Linked DNA regions of Homo sapiens. The protein of the gene in region 1 purifies or fractionates together with the protein of each later gene. This does not show direct contact. Each region holds a gene or a part of one and is shown in the gene's direction. Other genes may lie near its edges.

The links.
Region 2: the proteins of CASD1 (region 1) and NDUFB3 purify together in Homo sapiens (affinity purification with mass spectrometry; one large-scale study listed by BioGRID and IntAct). This does not show direct contact.

Annotation. Positions count from the first base shown.
Region 1 is NC_000007.14:94,554,502-94,557,546, forward strand, and holds the end of CASD1 (N-acetylneuraminate (7)9-O-acetyltransferase), read left to right. Parts: coding exon 1-74; intron 75-990; coding exon 991-1,257; 3' UTR 1,258-2,518; downstream 2,519-3,045.
Region 2 is NC_000002.12:201,078,493-201,082,326, forward strand, and holds part of NDUFB3 (NADH dehydrogenase [ubiquinone] 1 beta subcomplex subunit 3), read left to right. Parts: intron 1-388; 5' UTR 389-390; coding exon 391-530; intron 531-3,834. UniProt on the Homo sapiens protein: Accessory subunit of the mitochondrial membrane respiratory chain NADH dehydrogenase (Complex I), that is believed not to be involved in catalysis. Complex I functions in the transfer of electrons from NADH to the respiratory chain.

The DNA of each region.
Region 1 (3,045 bases):
TAAGAAACATCCCTGGATATGCCCGTTCAGTTTACAGTTCATTTTTTGCTTGGTTTGGAAAAATTTCATTAGAGGTTGGTACATTAATATTTTGCTTATCTTACACAGCCAGGTGTTTCATGTTTGTGTATGTACGTGTGTGTGTGTAAATATCACACATATATGTGAGTATGAAAATCGGACGTACTTTTTTCTAAACTGAAGCTATTATGGAATTACAGGGAAAAGACTTAGAACTTTCAACAATACTAAAGTATTTTGGAATGTTTTTAAGCCTTATTTTTAAATGACTAGATATAGATTACTTGCAAAATATTATTTACGTTGTCTTGAGCTTTCAAGCACAACCAAGATGCTGAGACCAAGAGAGAAAAATATTAGACCAGGTATATAAATGAAATCAAACTGAGGGGATTTTGATTTTTTGTTCATCTCCATAATTAAATATATTACTGGAATTCAGTTTATTGATGCATACCATAATAAAATTTACCCTTATTATGATTGGAAATTGTGGGAGAAAGTATAAACTCATTACATTTTGTGTAAGATACATAATATGAAATTATCTACAAAATCAGTTTGAACAGTAGGTTTTAAAATGTATTCTGAGTAGTCTAAGCTTTATTATTTGAAATAGAATGTTTTAAAACAATTTATATTGTAATAACAACATATATTTTAGAGTTTTTAGAGTATAGGATTTATTAAATTGTCTCTTAAAATAGGGAAAATAAATTCCTCTTTGAGTTCTTGAATAATTGTTCTATTATTTTCTTTGGTCTCATTTATAAGAGAGATTGTATTAGCAGTTGGAGTTCTAAGGAGTAGACTGCAGTGGACTTTTCAGGGCCAGTAGTGAGACAGAATAAAATGGTTTTAGGAAAGCCTTCTAATGTTATTATGCAACCAAATTGTTTAAATTAGGGAAAACTGTAATTTATTCATGGACCCTCTATAAATATCTGACTTAAATATTTTTTCTCCTAGCTATTTATTTGCCAGTATCACATATGGCTGGCAGCGGACACAAGGGGTATCTTGGTACTGATACCTGGAAACCCTATGCTCAACATCATTGTCAGCACTTTCATATTTGTTTGTGTGGCACATGAAATTTCTCAGATCACTAATGATCTTGCACAGATTATTATTCCTAAAGATAACTCATCTCTCTTGAAAAGGTTGGCATGTATAGCTGCATTTTTTTGTGGACTCCTCATCTTATCATCCATTCAAGATAAATCAAAACATTAGGTTCCAAAAATTCTAAAAAACCTAAACTCTTCAGGCTACCTTTGTGTGTCTCTAGAAGAGAAAAGCATCTATCTGGAGATATAAATGTGTATGTAAATATAAACGTTTGTGGCAAGAGGACAGTTCTGTGACATCTGTTGAACATATGTGGTTGTATATATTGGAAATGTACATATCCAATATGAAATACTAAAACAAACAAACAAACAAAAAACCAGAATGCATTGTATAGGATTGCATGTGAAGTCTTTTCTACTGAATCTATATTTCCATTTGTAAGTGATTTTAAGTTAACATATGAAGGCAGGGAAATGATTACCTTTCCAGTAAAAAGTATAGATAATTTAATTAACTTAGTGACACCACCAAGTGTTTTGATATAACTAAATTTGTGGTAATAAGACTGTCTGCACCTGTATTCATTGTGGAACTTCCTCTTTCATTGGAAACTTTCTTACTCAAGAATGACGGCAGTATTGTTTTCTTATATGTGCAATGAAGTGGAATGATAAACAGTATGCCTTTAATTTATATGTGTTCTTGTTCTGATGTTGTTTCCTGAAATGATTTTTCTTCCTAACTGTGGTTTTCGGGTATGCAAGCCTAAATCTTTGTACACTTTGTCTCACAGAATAGTTCTGAGGCTCCATGACAGGGTTTTGTCATTGTTGATGTTATTGTTGCTTCGTTTTATAAAAAAGCCAAAATTTTTTTTCCAATCCAAACGTTCACCTGTTTCCTTTCCTCAAGCTATACCAGTGTAATACCAGTTACCCTGTGGATCCATTTAATATGTTATCCCCACTAATTAATTTTCGTATATTATTTCCAATATTTGGAAAGCTCTTTATAGCCATTTGGTATTTCCTATTACCCACCTCCTATTTTAAATATTTATCAGTCTAAACTTGTGCAGTGTAGTAAACATGCAAGTTGTTACGATTGAGCTGTATTACCATAAGTAGAATTTTAAGTAAACTGGTGAATTTGGGCAATAAATGTTTTTGCTTTTTGTTTGATTTTTTTTTACAAGCTAACTGTTAGAGGTATACATTTATTTATCTGTTGTACAGATTTGATTATGATTTTAATGTTTGAAAGATTGCACTTGTTTGCTTTTACTATATGTGGGGTAAAATATATTTTCTGTTCACAGTATATGAAAATATGGAGTAATTTAAACAGTAAATAAACATTCTGTGGATGCTTATTTTTGTATTGGCAAAGTATCAATTAAACTATATGTGTTCTTTTTCAAAAATGCTGGATCCATTCATGATTGGTTCAAATATCTAATTATTTCCTCAACTTAAATTTGCTTTTTAAATTGCTTAATATGTAGGGGTAGGTTACCAAATGATAGTTGGATAAGGAATCATTTAGTTATCAGAGCTTCAGAGGGTCATCTGCTTTCCACCAAGGAAGTTTAAGCATTATGGTTCATTAGTGATTTTGCTTGAAGATTTTAAAAATGTACTTATTATTTATTTAGCACTGGATTTATGTGCTACTGATATACCTCCATTAATAGAGGAATATTTCTTGGACAGAGATGTGTGTTCTTTCCTTTTCTCTCTTCTTTTGCCCTTACTTAATCTTTTGACATTTCCCAGATAGACAATTGTAATGATTCATTGCTCTGCCTCCTAGACTGCAGCCTTATAAGTAGAGAATAGTATAGTTATAAATCAAAAACTTCCAAGTACTGTGATCACATTATTCTTGTTCATGTAGCTTGCCAATGAGTAGAGTGCATTTTAATTTAGCTTGTAAGTTTTATCACCTGAA
Region 2 (3,834 bases), on another chromosome or scaffold:
GTTAATACACATAAAGCATTTTAGCATATGTTTACTATTTATAAAGAGTTGTTTTAGAGGTATTGGAGTTAATACACATAAAGCATTTTAGCAAATGTTTACTATTATTATAATGAAGAAAAGAACCAGATAGTAAATGGTTATCTCTGAGTGATGAGATTGCCAATTATTTTTCTTTTTTATATTTTGTGTATGTGTATTTCCTAACTGTGAACATGGTTGTAGAATAAGACACTTTTATAAAATCCTTTAACTGGAATTTTCAAGTATTTATATTGGCTTTTTTTTTTAATATTAAATGCTTTACCTTAAAACATAAACAATAAATTTGGGTATTTGATATCTACAATTTGCATATTTCTCACTTGTGTTAATCTTTTCCTTACAGACATGGCCCATGAACATGGACATGAGCATGGACATCATAAAATGGAACTTCCAGATTATAGACAATGGAAGATAGAAGGGACACCATTAGAAACTATCCAGAAGAAGCTGGCTGCAAAAGGGCTAAGGGATCCATGGGGCCGGTAAGATGAATTAAGTAATTTAGATAGAATGTATCCTAGAGAATCAAGTGTCTATGTTGCTTTTCAATGTATTCTCCTTAGAGAATCATGAAAAATGGCTTTTTACTTTAAAGGGTTTTTTTTGGTTTTTGTTTTGTTTTTGAGACGGTGTCTTGCTGTGTTGCCAGGCTGGAGTGCAGTGGCGCGATCTCAGCTCACTGCAGCCTCCGCCACCCGGGTTCAAGTGATTCTCTTGCCTCAGCCTCCCAAGCAGCTGGGATTACAGGCACGCGCCACCAAGCCCAGCTACTTTTTGTGTTTTTAGTAGAGACGGGGTTTCACCATGTTGGCCAAGATAGTCTCGATCTCCTGACCTCGTGATCCACCTGCCTCAGCCTCCCGAAGTGCTGGGATTACAGGCATGAGCCACCACGCCTGGCTACTTTAAAAGTTTTTGGTTTGTTTTGAGACAGGGTCTCACTCTGTCACCCAGACTGGAGTGCAGTGGTGCGCTCACAGCAACCTCCATCTCCCAGGCTTAAGCAATCCTCCCACTCCAGCCTCCCTAGTAGCTGAGACTACAGGCATGGGCCACCATGCCCAGCTAATTTTTATATTGTTAGTAGAGACAGGGTTTTGCCATGTTGCCCGGGCTAGTCTCAAATTCCTGAGGTGAAGTGATCTGCCCACCTTGGCCTCCCAAAGTGTTAAAATTACAGGCATGAGCCGCTACACCTAGCCACATTAAAATTTTAAAATCGACTTTATTGAGCTATCGTTTATATATAGTAAAATTCACCTGTTTTGAGTGTAAGTCCTTTATCAGATAAAAGTTTTGTGGTGCTTGCTTCAGAAACATATATACTAAAATTGTAATACAGAGAAGTTAGTATGGCCCTGTGCAAGGATTTAAAACAATTTTTTTTAAGGTTTGCAAATGTTTTTTCTCACAGTGTGGCTTATCTTTTTATTTTCTGAATAATGTCTTTCAGAGAGTTTTAAATTTTGATGAATTCACAATTTAGCAATTTTTAAATTTTACAATGTATCCTTTTTGCACCCTAAGATTATCTTCTATGCTTTCTTTTAGAAGCTTTTATAGTTCTTCTTACATTCTGTGATCTGTTTTGAGTTCATTTTTGTGTCATATGAAGTAAGGATGAAGATTAGTATTTTTACATATGTGCATCCAGTTGCTCCAGCACCATTTATTAAAAAATTATTGTACCTCCGTTGAATTACCTTAATAATGTTGTCAAAAATCCATTGAGTGATTTTTGACACTCAATGTGGGTGGTGGCTCGCACCTATAATTCCAGCACATTGGGAAGCCAAGGCAGGCGGATCGCTTGAGCCCAGGATTTTGAAACCAGCCTAGGCAGTACAGGGAGACTTTGTCTCTACAAAAAAATTTTAAGAATTGCCAGATGTGATGACACACACATGTAGTCCCAGCTACTCAGGAGGCTGAGGTGGGCAGATCACTTGAGCCCAGGATGTCCAGGCGGCAGTGAGCCAAGATCTGGCCACTGCACTCCAACCTGGGCAACAGAGAGAGACCTTGCCTCAAGAAAAAAAAATCAATTGACTGTATCTATGGGATCTATGTCTGGACTGTACTCTGTTACCCTCATTAATATGTCCACCCTTATGCCAATACCACAGTGTCTTTAAATTACATAGCATAAGATCTCCAACTTTTTTTTTTTTTTTTTTTTTTTGAGACAGAGTCTCACTCTGTCACCCAGGCTAGGGTGTGGTGGCTCAATCTGGCTCGCTGCCAGCTCCACCTCCCGGGTTCACGCCATTCTCCTGCCTCAGCCTCCTAAATAGCTGGGACTACAGGTGCCTGCCACCATGCCCTGCTAATTTTTTGTATTTTTAGTAGAGACGGGGTTTCACCGTGTTAGCCAGGATGGTCTGGATCTCCCGACCTCATGATCCACCCGCCTCAGCCTCCCAAAGTGCTGGGATTACAGGCATGAGCCACCGTGCCCAGCCAAGATCTCCAACCTGTAAAAAATTGTTTTAGCTATTCTAGGTCCTTTGCTTTTACATATAAACTTTGGAATGAACCTGACAATTTCTATTAAAATCCCTGCTTGGATTTTAATTGGGATCACATTGAATCTGTTTCACATAGATTCACAATGGGAATCTATTTCACATCCACATTGAATCAGATTCCCATCAATTTAGGGGCCAGGCATGGTGGCTCACACCTGTAATTCCAGCACTTTGGGAGGCCGAGGCGGGTGGATCACTTAAGGTCAGGTGTTCGAGACCAGCCTGGGCAACATGGGAAACCCTGTCTCTACTAAAAATACAAAAATTAGCCAGGTGTGGTAGTGGGTACCTGTAATCCCAGCTACTCAGGAGGCTGAGACAGGAGAATCACTTGAACCCGCGAGGCTGAGGTTGCAATGAACCAAGATCGTGCCACTGCACTCCAGCCTGGGCAACAGAGTAAGCTTCCATCTTAAAGAAAACAAAAAATTTAGGGATAAGTGATGTCTTAACAATATTAAGTCTTCTAGTCAATGGGCAATTTAGGTCTTGTTCATTTTATCAGCAGTATTTTATTGCTTTACGTACAGGTCTTGCACATATTTTATTAAATTTATACTGAATTAATTATTTATTTTATTTTATTTTATTTTTCTGGGAGACAGAGTCTCACTGTGTCACCCAGGCTGGAGTGCAGTGGCACAATCTTGGCTTACTGCAACCTCTGCCTCCTGGGTTTAAGCAATTCTCCTGCCTCAGCCTCCTGAGTAGCTGGGATTACAGACGTGCACCACCACGCCCAGCTAATTTTTTTTTTTTTTTTTTGAAATGGAGTCTCGCTCTGTCACACAGGCTGGAGTGCAGTGGCACGATCTCCGCTCACTGCAAGCTCCGCCTCCTGGGTTCACACCATTCTCCTGCCTCAGCCTCCCGAGTAGCTGGGACTACAGGCGCCCACCACTATGCCCGGCTAATTTTTTGTATTTTTTAGTAGAGATGGGGTTTCACTGTGTTAGCCAGAATGGTCTCGATATCCTGACCTCATGATCCACCCACCTCAGCTTCCCAAAGCGCTGGGATTACAGGCATGAGCCACCGCGCCAGGCCTAATTTTTGTATTTTTTTGGTAGAGATGGGGTTTCACCATGTTGGCCAGGCTGGTCTTGAACTCATGACCTCAAGTGATCCGCTCGCCTCAGCCCCCCAAAGTGCTAGGATTACAGGTTTGAGCCATCAGGCCTGGCGTTGTTTGTTTGTTTGTTTGTTTGTTTGTTTTGGGAGATGGAGTCTCCGTCGCCCAGGATGGAGTGCAATGATG